2 linked regions of the Homo sapiens genome follow. The protein of the gene in region 1 interacts with the protein of each later gene in a pairwise test. Each region holds a gene or a part of one and is shown on either strand. Other genes may lie near its edges.

Region 1 (7,281 bases):
AGCAGGCTTAACCTGATCTGGCCAAACCACTTTCAAAAGTAAGATCTCGTTTTCATCTCCGGATTCAAGACTCTTCCCCCAAAATTGCTTGCATTTTGTAAAGGGGTTGACTAGCACCATTTCTTTGTAAAAAGAGGCACTCCTGGCCTTTAAGTCACAATTACAAGAAGTTGAATAAAAAGTTGATGAAGTGCAGGGTAATCTTTAGAGCCCAATAATGGTCACAGCGTATAGGTTGTGTGAGATTTGTATGTTGGTCTTGCACGCAGTGTAATGTTCTGAGCCTCTCAATATTGTAATGAGTTTCTACGAGTGAGTCTTTACTAAAGGAATCCAGAAACTAAGGAGACACTGATGTATGGACCAGATGTTAAAGAAAATGTTTTGACCCAGCAGATACTCTGATAGAATACTGGCTATTATTTTTGTAAAGCCGATGTGATTGCAACATAGGCACGTAATCTTTATCATTAGAGATGAATAGCAGCATCTGGACACCAACCCATCAAACTGCTTTTCAAATTCTGCAGTTTTTCTCATCTTCTGCTGAATCTTGGGATGTCTTTTTATATTCCTTGGTTTTAGCTCCTAAACTCTAAATTCTAATTTTCAAAACTGAAACATCTCTGAATCTACTTCTTTCTAAAGAATTGCAGCCATCTCACCAAATTTCCTTTAAAAAAGGATTGAATTGTCAAATAGGAGGAAATTGTTTTGTATTGTGAGTCTGGTTAGGTTTATCAGTCTCTTGAAACCCGGTTGAAATATTTTTTTCTTGGTTTTAAACAAGAATGCTTTAATATTGTGGATATTGTCTGGAACTAGAACGTGACATTTTCAAGCTGACATTACAGGTGATTTTATAAGGTAAGTACTACTGGTTTTGCCAAAAGGTTGAAAAGGAATTCAGGTGGTGGGGGAAGTGTTAATGGGATTTGCCTTACATAGCGTTTTTTCCTCCTTTCTCTACAATAAAATCCGAACGTAGGTGGTAAATATTAATGCTTTCATAGCTATTTTGCCCAGGACAAGGGCAGAGCTACAGCTGTGTATATTTCTTGAGCCTTAGCATTTTATGTTGATCAGTGTTTTTACATATGCGACTGTTTTTTTAACAAGGCATGGTGACTGATGTTTAGGAATTTTAAGTGTTTTGACCCAGGTTAGTATTGGGGGTGTGGGCTATGTAGAATTAGATATTGAAATCACTTAGTCTTGTTTTTAAACTGCAAACCAAAAGAAGTTCTTCACTGTAGCAAATTACAGTCTTGAAATTCCCCCAAAATCTTTGCTTTGAATTGGGTTTTGGAGGTTACATTGAGATTGATGTTATCAACATAGATTGTTACCTGACAGTTTGGATAAGGGGCCCCTTTTTCTCTAATTTTTGTGGTTAGAAATTAGGTTAAAAGGTAGTCTTCTGAAAAGTCAAAAGATATTTATATTTGCTTTTGTTGGGGAGTACTGACTGTTTTATGAATGTAAATTTAACAGTCTGTGCTATATTTACAAGAGAGTTTTTATAAGCACAGGCCTACAACTAATTTCAGATGATGTTTTTTTCCAGACACTATTCTCCAGTTTTTGAGGATTTACTTATCCATTTACTCTTCTGGTAGACAGTTTGGCTGCCAGAAAAAAATATAGTCCTTATTATATTGATATGAGCATTGACCTTTCCATAACAGGATTAATGAGGTTTTCTTTGCCCCTGTCCCTCCCAATTTTTAAAATATTGCCTTGTCAGTCAACTTAATGAGTTTGTGCATGTTTAATGTTAAATGGATTCTAGTTGTATCCCCTAGAAACATTTTAACAAAAATTGTGTTGATAGGACAAGTTTCTGTTTATTTCTAACTAGGGTCTCTTAACTAAATGTACATAACATTAGCCCAAGAGTTGATCTTCTGGTTTTATAAAGTAGCCACTTGAACTTAGCTGAGTTGAATTAAATCTAATATTTATAATAATTTAGTAATGGTTTTGTTCTTAGACTATAAGAGAAGGAACCAGGTTAGGAAGGGGTAATGAAGTAACAGCAGGAAGGTATCCACATTGAAAACAGTTGTGATAGCTAGAGCTATGGCCTCTATTCTTGTATCTTCTGCATCTAAGTGCCCTGTCTGTATCGAAGTTTTAGGAGGCCCTAAGGAAACCTGCTTGGGCATTCTGATTCCATGATTACATTTGTGCTGCCAGAAAACATTTCCCATTGCATTTTAGTGATGGAGATTTAAAGAAAGCCAATTACTGTAACTCCCTTAAATAAAAACATATTTAAAAATTTTCGGATTAAATAAACAATAATTGACTCTAAAACTAGACTGGAAATTATCCTTTTGTTAGGAAAGACATCACAGCACTTGCCAGATTAACGATGGTTGTCTTTATGCCCAGATAGGTATAAAGACTTGCAATTTTTTTAAACAAAGCCTTACATTTTTTTCAGGAGGAAAAACCAGGAGAGGAAGTAATTGACAATAAAATGAAAGATCATCAAAGTGAAATGTAGGATAACAAGAAAAACTAGCATGTTTTATGTAGGCAGTATTTTATTTTGTTTAGTATGTTCAACAGACATTTACAGATCAACTAAATTCAATCTTTTTAATTATTTGAGGAGGTGAGCTGTAATTTAAATAGTGCCACCTTTTAAAGTAGTATTTCTCCTTTGGACATCCAGAAGACTTAATATTTTCTAAATTGAGGGGGAAAATGTACAACAAAACTCTTTGAAAATACCAGTGTTGGATTCAAGTTTGTTCTGCTTTCCTTCATAGCTACTGGCATATTGTAGGTGGTTGACTTGATTTTGTCTTTTTATGATTCATACTATAAAATCTCACTAGAGCAGCTTTTCCAGGGGGTGGGTTACACTTAAGCTCCAAATTGTCAGGTTCCCTGACACCGTCTTTCTGCAGAGCTCTTTAAATACAGTACAAAAATGTGTGACGCTAAATACGTTTCTTTATCCTATCTAGACAAGTCACAATACTGTAAACCTCTTCAACCCTGAGCGTTTGTCATTGTACAAATGAATTGTCCGTGCTTTCCTTTCATGCACTTATGTATTAATGTGTCACTTTTTGACTAGAGGTGTGCTTTTGACACTTAACCTATTTTCTATTGAATATAATAAGAAGTGTGAAATGTAACTAATAGTTCTTAAAATGTTAAATGAACAGTAAATGTTCAGTGGCGCACTTCACATTCAACTTAAGCATGATAAGTCTATTTGGAGTAGAGAAATGAGATTACCATATATTCTAGAACCAGCAGAAAACTATGTAGTTTTCAGTTTTTTGAGCTGCATATTCTAGTTTCTTTTTTTTTTTTTTTAATCCAAATCAACAAAGGGATTTTTTTTTTCTAGTTTCAGTTTTGGCACTGGATTTTATCCTGGAGTTTTAAAATATTCTTCATCCTGTTCTTTTTCTATTAAGGTTAATGTTGAAGAAGGAAAATGCGGAAGTCGTCATTTGACAAGTTTTATAAATGAGTATTTGAAGCTCAGGAATAAGTGAAGCTGAAATTTGAAAAAATAAAAGAAAGAATGCATGCTAATTATCAGACCAGAAGTCCCACTTGTAGAATATTGAGCAATTTGTGTGAAGTGGGGAAGATGAAAGAAGTCAGAATTTGAAACGGAAGAATGAAGAAAAGAAATAAAAATGAAGTTAAGATAAGAAGTAATCTGGAATCAGAAAGCACTACGCTAAGTAATTACTAGTCTGTTTATGTGTCCCTGTATATTTTGCTAAACATGCATGCATTATTTGTTTAATAGAGGAAAATATATACAGGGTAAAGAAGTGCCTTCCAGGGGAAACGTTTAAATTAGGTAATTCTGATTTTAACTGCTTAGTTAAATGATTGAAATGCAATTTTTAAAAAATATTTAGTAGTCAAGCACCAGGCAGCAGTGAGCTCTCCAGCATGGGTAACAGTGGGCTTCATGTTGTCCTCTCTAGATAAACTTTACCTGTCTAATGTTGCTGGTCCTGGGGCATGAGCGAATACCTCCAGGGTTGGAACTGGTGGTCTTTGCCACCTCCCTGGACTCTTAGATTGCACTGTCCCCTTTCCTTCAGTACTGAGCAATGTATAGTAGAATATTTTCTGTTAAACCATTTTCAAAGGAATGTCACCAGGATGGTTATGGAACCAAACCCCCAAAATCCAAACAAAGCATTGAACAAAATAGTTCCCTTTGGCATTAGTGTGTTAGTTTTTTCCATATGGCACTAGTGGAAATCTGTGAGCATTTGGGCCCTAAATTTAAGATGCATATTTGCTAAATACACAGGGATGGTTTTTCAAATTCTGTTTCTGTTTAATGCCTATTTCAGCTGATTGACTAGGATTACTGATAAAATACCGTAGCTTCCCCTTAGAAGAGGTGGGTCACACAAGTGAACAGGATAGCTAATACAAATTGCAGTAATGGCAGATGCTTTCATTCCTATTTCTCCTTTTTTGCTATCAACATTTAGCTATTGTAATGTTAGAGGTAACGGTTACAAAGTAGCTTTATTCTGGTTACCTGGTATCCCTTGCACTTATTGAGAAATTCAACCCAAAAGCTGTCCCTTCTTTTCTGTGTGTTTTGTTTTAGCTGAGTAGAAGGGTCAAGTGATTGGTGTAATGTTACTTTCAGTTGAATGAGACAAGTACACATATCAAAAATAATACCCAGTAGTAGTCAGCCAGCGGTTTTCTACCCAGTTGAGAATGCCAAGGGTATCATGTCACACATGTCTTCCTGAAATAAACTTTCTCTGAGAGTTGTCAGGTCTTCATGCTCTTGGAGAAAGTGACTTAAATGGCATTTCTTGGAGAATCCATTTTCTGATGCTTTCAGGCCTGTTTATTTCTATATCTTGCAAGCAGAAGAAAATTTTCTCTTAAGAAGTTTTGCATTCCTTTGTCAAATTTCTTGCCATAGATAAACTAATGATGATAAATGTTATTTTATGTTCCAAATTACTCAAAGAGCAGGCAGGAAACTGAGGTAAATGTGTGAATGAATATTACATTTTAATTCCAAGCCCATGGATTCTTTTATCAAGAAACCTGACAGGTCCTTGGGGTGCAAAAGAGGAAAAGACCTCTTAACCCCCAGCCCACTAAAGGAAAGAAAGCAATTTGGAATCTGGTTATGACCCAAGCTGGATAGACTTAAGGTGAGAAAACGTTGCTAGTGGACCATTGTGTCCATTTGTTTTTGTTTTCCCCCTTGACCAAAGCATCTGTGGGTCCTAATGTGTCTCCTCCTCGGGCCATAGGGAAGATGAGGAGGAGGCCGGCTTCTGTTCCTGAGAACAGGCAGTGTGTGAAAGACTGCCTTAATCAGAGGTCTGATTAATGCTAAGGGGAGTCAAAACAAGGAAGGGGATGACAGTGTTTCAGGAAGATAACCTTTGCCAAGGGAAAAAAATGAGTAGGAAGCATGTAACTTCTGAGGTTGACTAAGTCAAGTAAGTCAGACTTAACTAGTATGATAAACAGTGTTTTAAGAGATGCAGTGTTTATGAGCCACTATTTTAAATCTAACAAACCACATTCAGTTTTTAAAATAATACAGGGATTGGATGGTTAGTCCTTTCAAATATGTTTTTGTAAGGTGGTTGCTGTTCTCAGAATAGGGAGATGTGGATTATTTTGTTGGAAGGCTAAGTGTGTTGTATTTTTACTTGATGTATTCCCTTTAGGTTTTGTATTAGGATGTGGCTGAGATCCAGTCTGTGAGAGCTTGATTGATTTCCTGAGCATTTTTTCAGGGAAATTTTGGTTTTATTCATGCTAATTTTAGTTTCATGGTCCCTTTTTTTGAGGCAGTGGTGTCCAGTTCTGTCTGTTGGTGTGGTTTTAATGTGTTGACCATGTCAGCCCTGAGAGTGGAATTTGAAGTATGCTTAGATTTAGGGACTTCCCCAACTGGTTTTTATAGCTTTACCTGTCTGCATTGAGATTTAAAGTTAATTATGCTTTTGATTTGGGTGCTAATTTTAGGTCTTATTTCTTGTAGGCAAGTTTTATTCCCTTGCCATATGTATTTCCCAGCCAGTTAAATGGCCAAAATAACTTCAGAAAGCTTTAACTTCTTTAAGAAAATATCCCTGATAAAGGATCGAGACGTTTAGGTGTTACCCAAACAAGTGTCAGTATAGAAAAGGAAGCCTTTGCATTCTGGTATTTCCCTTATTCCTGGCCCAAGAAATGATTGCTTACAAAATATATCTGCATAGTCCGTTAGTTTTGGAGGCTGAGTGAAAACTCCTGTGATTTCAGAAATATTGTATCTGTGATCTGCTAGATTTTAAGGAGAAAACTTCATTAAGTCTTATTTTCTAGGTTAGGAGTACTGTCTCTTCCCTCAGTGGACAGGCTGCCGAAGCATCTTAGCTTAGAATAAAGGTTTTTCTGTTAAAGCCAGGAGCTTAAAGAGGATCTTGACTTGACCCATTCTTCCTTTATACTCAGATTCCTGGGCTGACTGATTTCTGTTAACTACAGTTACTTTATTGGTAGTCTTAACTGTTACTGTGAAACACCCATATTCTGCTTTCACTTCTGGAGAAAATTGTTTCATTTCCATAGAGGTAATCTTTCTAGTGTTGGAGTAAACAGGCTTTTAGCAACTTTTGGGTTCCCCATTTCTATATTCTCACCTATGTTAATTTTTGCCTGTGGTAAAAATAGCAAAAACTACACCCTCATTTTTGAGACTTCCTCCTTTGTCCATGGAGAGAAGGGAAGTGTCCGTTCAGAATACTTGATAGGGAATTCCAAGGGATTGTTGTTAATTGGAAGCCCCAGAGCATCACTACATCCTTTAACCATTTCTTGATGTTAAAGGCAGCTGTTCATATATTTTTCTTTTAATCTTTTTACAGTCAGTCATGGAGGGAGGTAGAGGGGAAAGGCTGTCACATTTCATGTCACCCCACCATGTTTTATAATGGCTTTGAAGTCATTTGAACGTTTCTAGAGTCGTCTGGGGCCTAGAGACCTGAACTCATTTTACTGGATGAGTTAGCCTTTCCTTCTGTGTTAAACCTCAAACCTTAATTTGTCTATTCTGTGTTACATTATAAATGTTTTCCCTGAGCATCAAAGGATCATCCAAATTTTCTCCATTATGTTGTAAACCACAAAACTATCTTCTAAAGTGTTTTGAGCTGTAATTTAGAATAATCCTCTACTGTCCTTTCAAGAATGTCCAGAATACTCTGAAGATGTATCACACAAGGAAATCTCTTGTGATTTTATCTGAAAGCT
Region 2 (7,109 bases), on another chromosome or scaffold:
AACCATCTTACTGTTTCCGTGAATGTGAATATTTTAGATACTTCATAGAAGTGGAATCATGCAGTACAGTATTTGTCCTTCTCCGACTGATTTATTTCACTTAGCAGAACATCCTCCAGGGTCATTCATGTTGTTACATACAGCAAGATTTCCTTTTTTTATTTTTATTTTTATTTTTATTTGAGACACAGTCTCTCCTCTGCGGCCTAGGCTGGAGTGCAGTGGTGCGATCTCGGGTCACTACAACCTCTGCCTCCCAGGCTCAACCGATTGTCCTGTCAGCCTCCTGAGTAGCTGGGATTACAGGTGCGAGCTACCATGCCAGGCTAACTTTTGTATTTTTAGTAGTGATGGGGTTTCGCCATGTATGCCAAGCTGATCTCCAACTCCTGGCGTCTAGTGATCGGCTTGCCTTGGCCTCCCAAAGTGCCGAGATTACAGGCATAAGCCACTGTGACTGGCCGATTTTCTTCTTTTTTAAGACTGAATAGTATTCAATTGAATGTATAAACCATATGTTTTTTAACCCATTCATCTTTCAACAGACGTATAAGTTGTTTCAAAAGATACCAGGTTTTGGCAAGGATACGGAGAAATTGGAATACTTATACACCATAGCAGGAATGTAAAACGGTGCAGCGACTATATAAAAAAAAAAAAGAGTATGGAAGTTCCTCAAATATAGAACTACCATATGATCCAGCAATTCTATTTCTGTGTATATATCCAAAACAATTGAAATCAGGCTCTCAAAAGAGATATCTGTACTTCCATGTTCATTGTTATATTTTTACAATTATATTGTGATGATCCCTGAGGTCTGAAGAGGATTTTTGGCTGCAAGTTTTTAGTTCAGCATCTTTACCCAGAAAGTTATTTCCACCCATAGCTAGGCCAAAAATCTGAGTCACTCAATACTACATTTTCTGGTTAAGTTCACCAACAATAATTGTTAGAACAATCCATCTTTCCTGAACTACAGAAACAATAAAAATAACAATAGCTCCAGCTTATTGATCACTTAACTGCCTTTAAAAAAATCATTTGAAACATTATAGCAATCCTTTGGAAATTATTTCTAAATTCCCATTTATTAAGATACTAAAGATTAGAAGTTAATTTCTCTAAGGTCTCATGCTATTGAGAGACAGAGCTGGAATTTGTACCCACGTCATTATGACTGCAAAGCTTACTCTCTTAATCACTACACAATAGCTTCAGACCAATGTTCAACATACCTAGAGTTCATCCTTTATAACCTCAACAACTTTTCCTATTTACTAACATGACTGAATTAAAAACCGCATTTTTTTACAGCTGTGCTCTTAGTTTAACATAAACTTACTTCATTTTATTTTTTGAGACAGGGTCCAGCTCTGTTGCCCAGGCTGGAGTGCAGAGGCGTAATCATGTCTCACTGCAGCCTTGACCTCGCCGGCTCAAGCAATCCTCCCACTTTGGCCCCCAGAGAAGTTGGGACTACAGGTGTGCACCACCATGACCAGCTATTTTTTATTTTATTTTCTGCAGAGATGTGGTTTCGCCAGGTTGCCCAAGCTGGTCTTAAAACTCCTGAGCCCAAGTGATCCACCTGCCTTGGCCTCCCAAAGGGCTGGAATTACAGGCATGTGCCACTGCAGCTGGCCCCATAAACTTATTTTAATAACAAAGATGCAAATATGGAATTCTATTTACATTAAAAATTACTCCTTAGTTCTAATAGGACAAATGTAGAATCAGGGAAAATGGCATTTTGATATCTTCTAAATTACTTGGCTGTTTTCTTATGCTCTTCTTTACAAAAAATTATTAAAGGAAACTCAAATATGCAAAAAAGTAGAGAAGAGAGTATAATATTAACTAATGTATGTGGAAATCAAAAGGTATCTGAGGCAGGTCTCAATCAATTTAGAAAGTTTATTTTGCCAAGGTTAAGAAAGAGCCCATGACAGCCTCAAGCTGTCCTGATGACATGTGCCCAAGGTGGTCGTGCACAGCTTCATTTTATACATTTTAGGGATACATGAGACATCAATCACCAGCTTGACTTCTTCCTTTGGCTTAGTGATGTTGGGGAGATTTTCCTTTCACATATGTATCGCCCAGCTTCAACAATTGTTAACTCATGGGTAGACTTGTTTAATCTATTCTCCTACCCATTTCGCTACACCTGCCACCAGTTTGATAAATCCCAGATACCATATAATTTCATTTGCAAATATTTATTACTATTCTTATTATTATTTTGAGACAGAGTCTAGCTCTGTTGTCCTGGTTGGGGTGAAAGTGGCACAATCTCAGCTCACTGCAACCTCCGCCTCCCGGGTTCAAGCAATTCTGCCTTAGCCTCCCGAGTAGCTGGGACTACAGGCGCATGCCATCATGCCTGGCTAATTTTTGTATTTTTAGCAGAGACGGGGTTTCACCATATTGGTCAGGCTGGTCTCAAACTCCTGACCACAGGTGATCCGCCCGCCTGGGCCTCCCGAAGTGCTGGGATTACAGGTATGAGCCACTGCATCTGGCCTGCAAATATTTTCATATGAATCATGAAATTATAAGAAATTCTTTAAAAAGCAAAACTTATTAAAACTAAAAATACAAATAGCAATTCCTCAGGATCATCAGATATTATTTAATGTGTGTGTGTGTGTGTGTTTGTGGCGTGTGCGTGTTCGTATATTCAAATTAGTGTTCAATTAAGGTCCTAGAAATGGGGCCACTCCTGGTGGCTTCACACCTGTAATCCCGCACTTTGGGAGGCCGAGGTGGGAGGATTGCTGGAGCCCAGGATTTAGACACTAGCCTGGGCAAGATGGCTAGGTGTTAGCCATCTTGCGGAGATGGTATATCTCCACAAAAAATGCAAAAAATGTGTCGGATGTGGTGGAGCATGCCTGTAGTTCCAGCTACCTGGGAGGTTAAGGTGGGAGGATCACTTGAGCCCAAGGTTGCAGTGAGCCATGATCACACCACTGCACTCCAGCCTGTGTCACAGTGAGACCACGTCTCAAAAAAAAAGAGGTACCACATTCTAGACTTCTAGACTACTTGTCTTTCCCTGAATATGCAGTTAGTTTGCCAGTTTGTCTTCATATCACGAAGTTACTTAGTTACCTTTTTCAGATTTTTCTTTCCCTTATAACTCAGTTATAGTTCAAGGAAGCAAAATTAGATTGTTTCCGTTGGACAATGAATCTTAAGCAAGTTTCTCTTGCAGATTTTACCACACTATGTAGTTATGTATCTACTGGTCATTTATTCTGTAGTTTCGATTCCTCGATGGTCTGCTTAAATCAATTTTGTGCCCCAGGGCCTTGATAACATGTTTAAATTAGTTATTAATTACAAAGACCTATTATGATACAATTCTTTCCCCAATTAAAAACAAAACTAGGCCGGGCGTGGTAGCTCACGCCTGTAATCCCAGCACTTCATCCTGGCCAACATGGTGAAATCCCGTCTCTACTAAAAATAAAAAAATTAACTGGGCGTGGTGGCGGGCGCCTGTAGTCCCAGCTACTCAGGAGGCAGAGCCAGGAGAATCGCTTGAACCTGGGAGGCGGAGGTTGCGGTGAGCCGAGATCGCGCTGCTGCACTCCAACCTAGCGACAGAGCGAGACTCCGTCTCAAAACAAACAAAAACTAGCAGGCTTTTGTGACTACAAACAAGCTGGTTGCATGCTGCACTGCCTTTGGGTAAGAGTGGAACTCCAACTAAGAAAGTACATCTGGTAAACATAAGGGATTCACCCAGACTTGTCCTAAATAAGACTCCGATTACCCGAACTGAATCAGGAGTCCTTTAGAGCGACTCTAGCTAAGAAGGCCTGTTAGGCCCTGCACTAAGAGTTTCAGGTGGGAAAATTGCGCCATCCAGTTATAGGCCGTACAGCGGGAACTCCATGAACAACCTGGGTAACCTAATCCCTGAATAAGACTCCTTCCAGGTACCAGTGGGCTGAGGGCGGCAGGGCGACGCGCTGACGTCACGTCACGTTCCTTTGCACGTCCCCGCCTCCCCGCCCCTCTCCGCACTGTGACGTTCCCAGAGAGGAACGAAGCGTAAACAGCGCAGGGCATTTCGGGAGCGGGATTGTTTCGCGCAGGAAGCAGGCTCCATTTTAGCGCCGCCCGCCGTCGCCATCTGTTTCCCTTCCCTCCCCCATACCTAGCCCGAGTCTGAGCCCTAACGAGAAGGCTGGGCCTAGGCCGCTGGATGCTGGAGTGAAAGGAAGGGAGAAAGGGAAAAAGCGGGAAGAGTCGAGAAGGCTGAGTGTTAAGAGGCCAAGTGCGACGCGCGTATCCGGGCAGACGGACTGACGGACGGGCCCGTGCTTCTGCCGCGGCTGCGGCGCCCGCGCGAGTCGCGTCTAAGCGGCGGCGGCGGTGGCAGCGGCGGAAACCGAAGGGGAGCCATGGCGGCTGACAGTCGGGAGGAGAAAGGTTAGTGCGGAGAAAGATGACGGGCCGAGGCGAGGCTGGGGCCCGGGAGTGGGGTGATGGAGCAGTGGTCGTCGTTGGGGGTGGGGGGTGGGGGTTGGGGAGGTTAGCTGGCCTCGCGAGGAGCCGGTGGCCCCCACCGAGACACTTAGACTCTGGCGGAGACCAGGCCTGCCCTTTCGTCCTCAGTCTCCATATGGCCTAGCACTTCATCTCAGTAGGGTTTTTCTTTGATGCGGATTTCACGCTTGACTTTCCGTTTAGCTGTCTTGGGCTGAGAGGGGCCCTTTCTGAGTTGCAAGCTCCTAGGTTTATTTCCTGGTAGGATCATGCGGATGTAACGCGTATTTTCAGGACAACCATTTCTGTTAGGCTAAAATTTGAAAACCCCTAATGCCGCGATCAACACTGGTGGTGTGGTAAGTGAGCAAGTTTAGGAAGTGGCACTGGCAGGTTATTAATCTTGAGAAATATCTGCAAATAACTTCTGGCTGTTCCTGTTAAATAGGCAAAGTGAATTACCCGTTTTGTTCCTCGAATACTTATTTTGGAAAAACATAGTACTTGGAAAAAGGAATACTTAGTTTGGAAAGATGACTGTGTGACTTAGGCTGGCAAAGAAATCCTGGGTGCTATTATGTTAGAAAAACCGTGTGTAGCTCCCAGAGGGTACAGTCAGAAACAAATGAATGCAAGTTACAGAGAGTTGGAGGGATAAATTTCAGTGAAATGTAGAGAGAACTGACGTTGCTGTAATGGAAAGATAGTAATACTAAGTTCCCAAGCCCTAGAGATATTAATGTAGGTCCTAGATCAGTGTCTCTCTGGAGAGTGGTCTAGATTAAATGCTGCTTTAAGATCTTTTTCAACCCTAAGATTAACATAATAGTCTTGGAAAGATTATAGTTAAAAATATGACACGGTCGCTGCTCTGTGTCTCACACATCTCTTCTGTGTGCCTAATTGATTTGGGGTTTTTTTGTCGGGGGTTGTTAAGTGGGCTCTAGAGTCAAGTTACATTAGGCGTGTAATCCTTTTTTCTTAATTTTTCTGGTTTCTGCATCAGGAGAGTCTTCATGCTTCAATGAACTGCCCTAGGTTAGGGACAAGCTGGGAAAGTGGAATGGGTGGGAATACTTTTAAGATACTGCCCTTATCCTAAAGTAGTTCTTTGATTAGGTTATAGCAGTTTAATGTTCCATCCTTAAACTAAATGCTAAAAAATCTCCCTGGGCCTTTTTTTTTTTTTTTTTTGAGAAATCCAGAAGTAATGGGAACATAGGATTGTATGGTGTTAGTGAGTAAAGGAAAATGCTTTTAATTAGTTAACTCAGTTATTAAAATACATGATCTTAATTAGTAAGTATTCAGCAAACATCTGATTGTCTTTCTAATTTATGAACTGTGGATATGGGAGTCTGTAGTGGTTGTGGTGGGCGAAATGAACCAAACACAAAAATGAGTAAAATTCAGTACTTCTCAAGAATTCGTTGTCTAAGATGAAAATATTTACAAGTCGTTAATAGAGTAGACGCAGTAATGCACATTGAAGAAGAAAAGTAGATGATTTTAAAAGTTTTGCTTTAGAAATGATTTAGTGATGATAATGCAGTCCAAATACATAAACTGTGTAGCTATTACTGGGAAGTAGTGATATCACCTGTTGTCTATACATAGGATACATTTCCCCACTTTTGAAAAGGTTCTTTGCCTCACATTTGCTTAGTTTTTTTTATTTAATTTTCATAACTTTATTTAAAAACTTGATGTAAGTGCTTTATCTTTATAGTTTAGAACAAAGATTGTTTCTGGACTACACGGAGAACTAGCACTTACCTACTGGAATTGTTTATTTCGTTTTGGGAGAGTTCTAGGTAACCTACAGGTTGTATCATTTACTTGATGATCATCATCACACACTTAGCTTTATAGTTAGAATCAATACTTAGGTCTTCCTCTCTTAAGGAAAAGTGGGACTCTTAAGCGCTTTATTGTCTTACATGAAACAGGAAATTATAAGGATAAACCCTCTAAAAATCTCAGTCATGTCACAAACGTTAAGTTCTTTCTCAAATGATTCCATAAATGGTTTAAGATCTTGATAGCAAATGAGTCTATAAGTTGCAGAAATTGGCAATTATATTAATCACAGAACAGTAAAGACCCTTGTTCATAGAGTTCTTGATGGGGTTTTGCACTTATCTGGGTAATAAAGACATGAATTTCTATAATCTATAACAATGCTTCAATAATACTCATACCTAGAAGCTGCAGCCCATATAAGTGGACAGATTGCTAGCTCCCTGTGATTCCTGTGGTGATAATTTGCCCAAGAAACTGGATTTGAAAGGTGTTGCAATGTTGGTGTTAACTAATATTAAATGCCATTTTTCTATATAAGGAGGAAATATGCATCTTTTCTATTATTGCAAACACCTTGTATAAATTGTATTAATCTTTTACAAAGTTCTCTACAAAGAACAGTTACAAAAGTTTAATCTATCCAAAATGTGTATGAGTAATGTGTAATGAGTTACTGTGTTAAAAATAACGTGTTTTCTAGATTACCAGACTAGAAGCTCCCTGAGTGCCCGGAGTACATCTGTCTTGTTCACTGGGTTCTTTGTATACAGTAATTGTGTTTCAGTACCTTGAGTATTTACCAG

What was found.
Region 2: the proteins of TRA2B (region 1) and YTHDC1 interact in binary tests that used the Homo sapiens proteins (3 or more experiments, as listed by UniProt).

Annotation. Positions count from the first base shown.
Region 1 is NC_000003.12:185,928,015-185,935,295, reverse strand, and holds part of TRA2B (transformer-2 protein homolog beta), read left to right. Parts: intron 1-3,535; exon of another isoform or gene 3,536-3,719; intron 3,720-7,281. UniProt on the Homo sapiens protein: Sequence-specific RNA-binding protein which participates in the control of pre-mRNA splicing. Can either activate or suppress exon inclusion. Acts additively with RBMX to promote exon 7 inclusion of the survival motor neuron SMN2.
Region 2 is NC_000004.12:68,347,063-68,354,171, reverse strand, and holds the start of YTHDC1 (YTH domain-containing protein 1), read left to right. Parts: upstream 1-4,081; 5' UTR 4,082-4,418; coding exon 4,419-4,446; intron 4,447-7,109. UniProt on the Homo sapiens protein: Regulator of alternative splicing that specifically recognizes and binds N6-methyladenosine (m6A)-containing RNAs.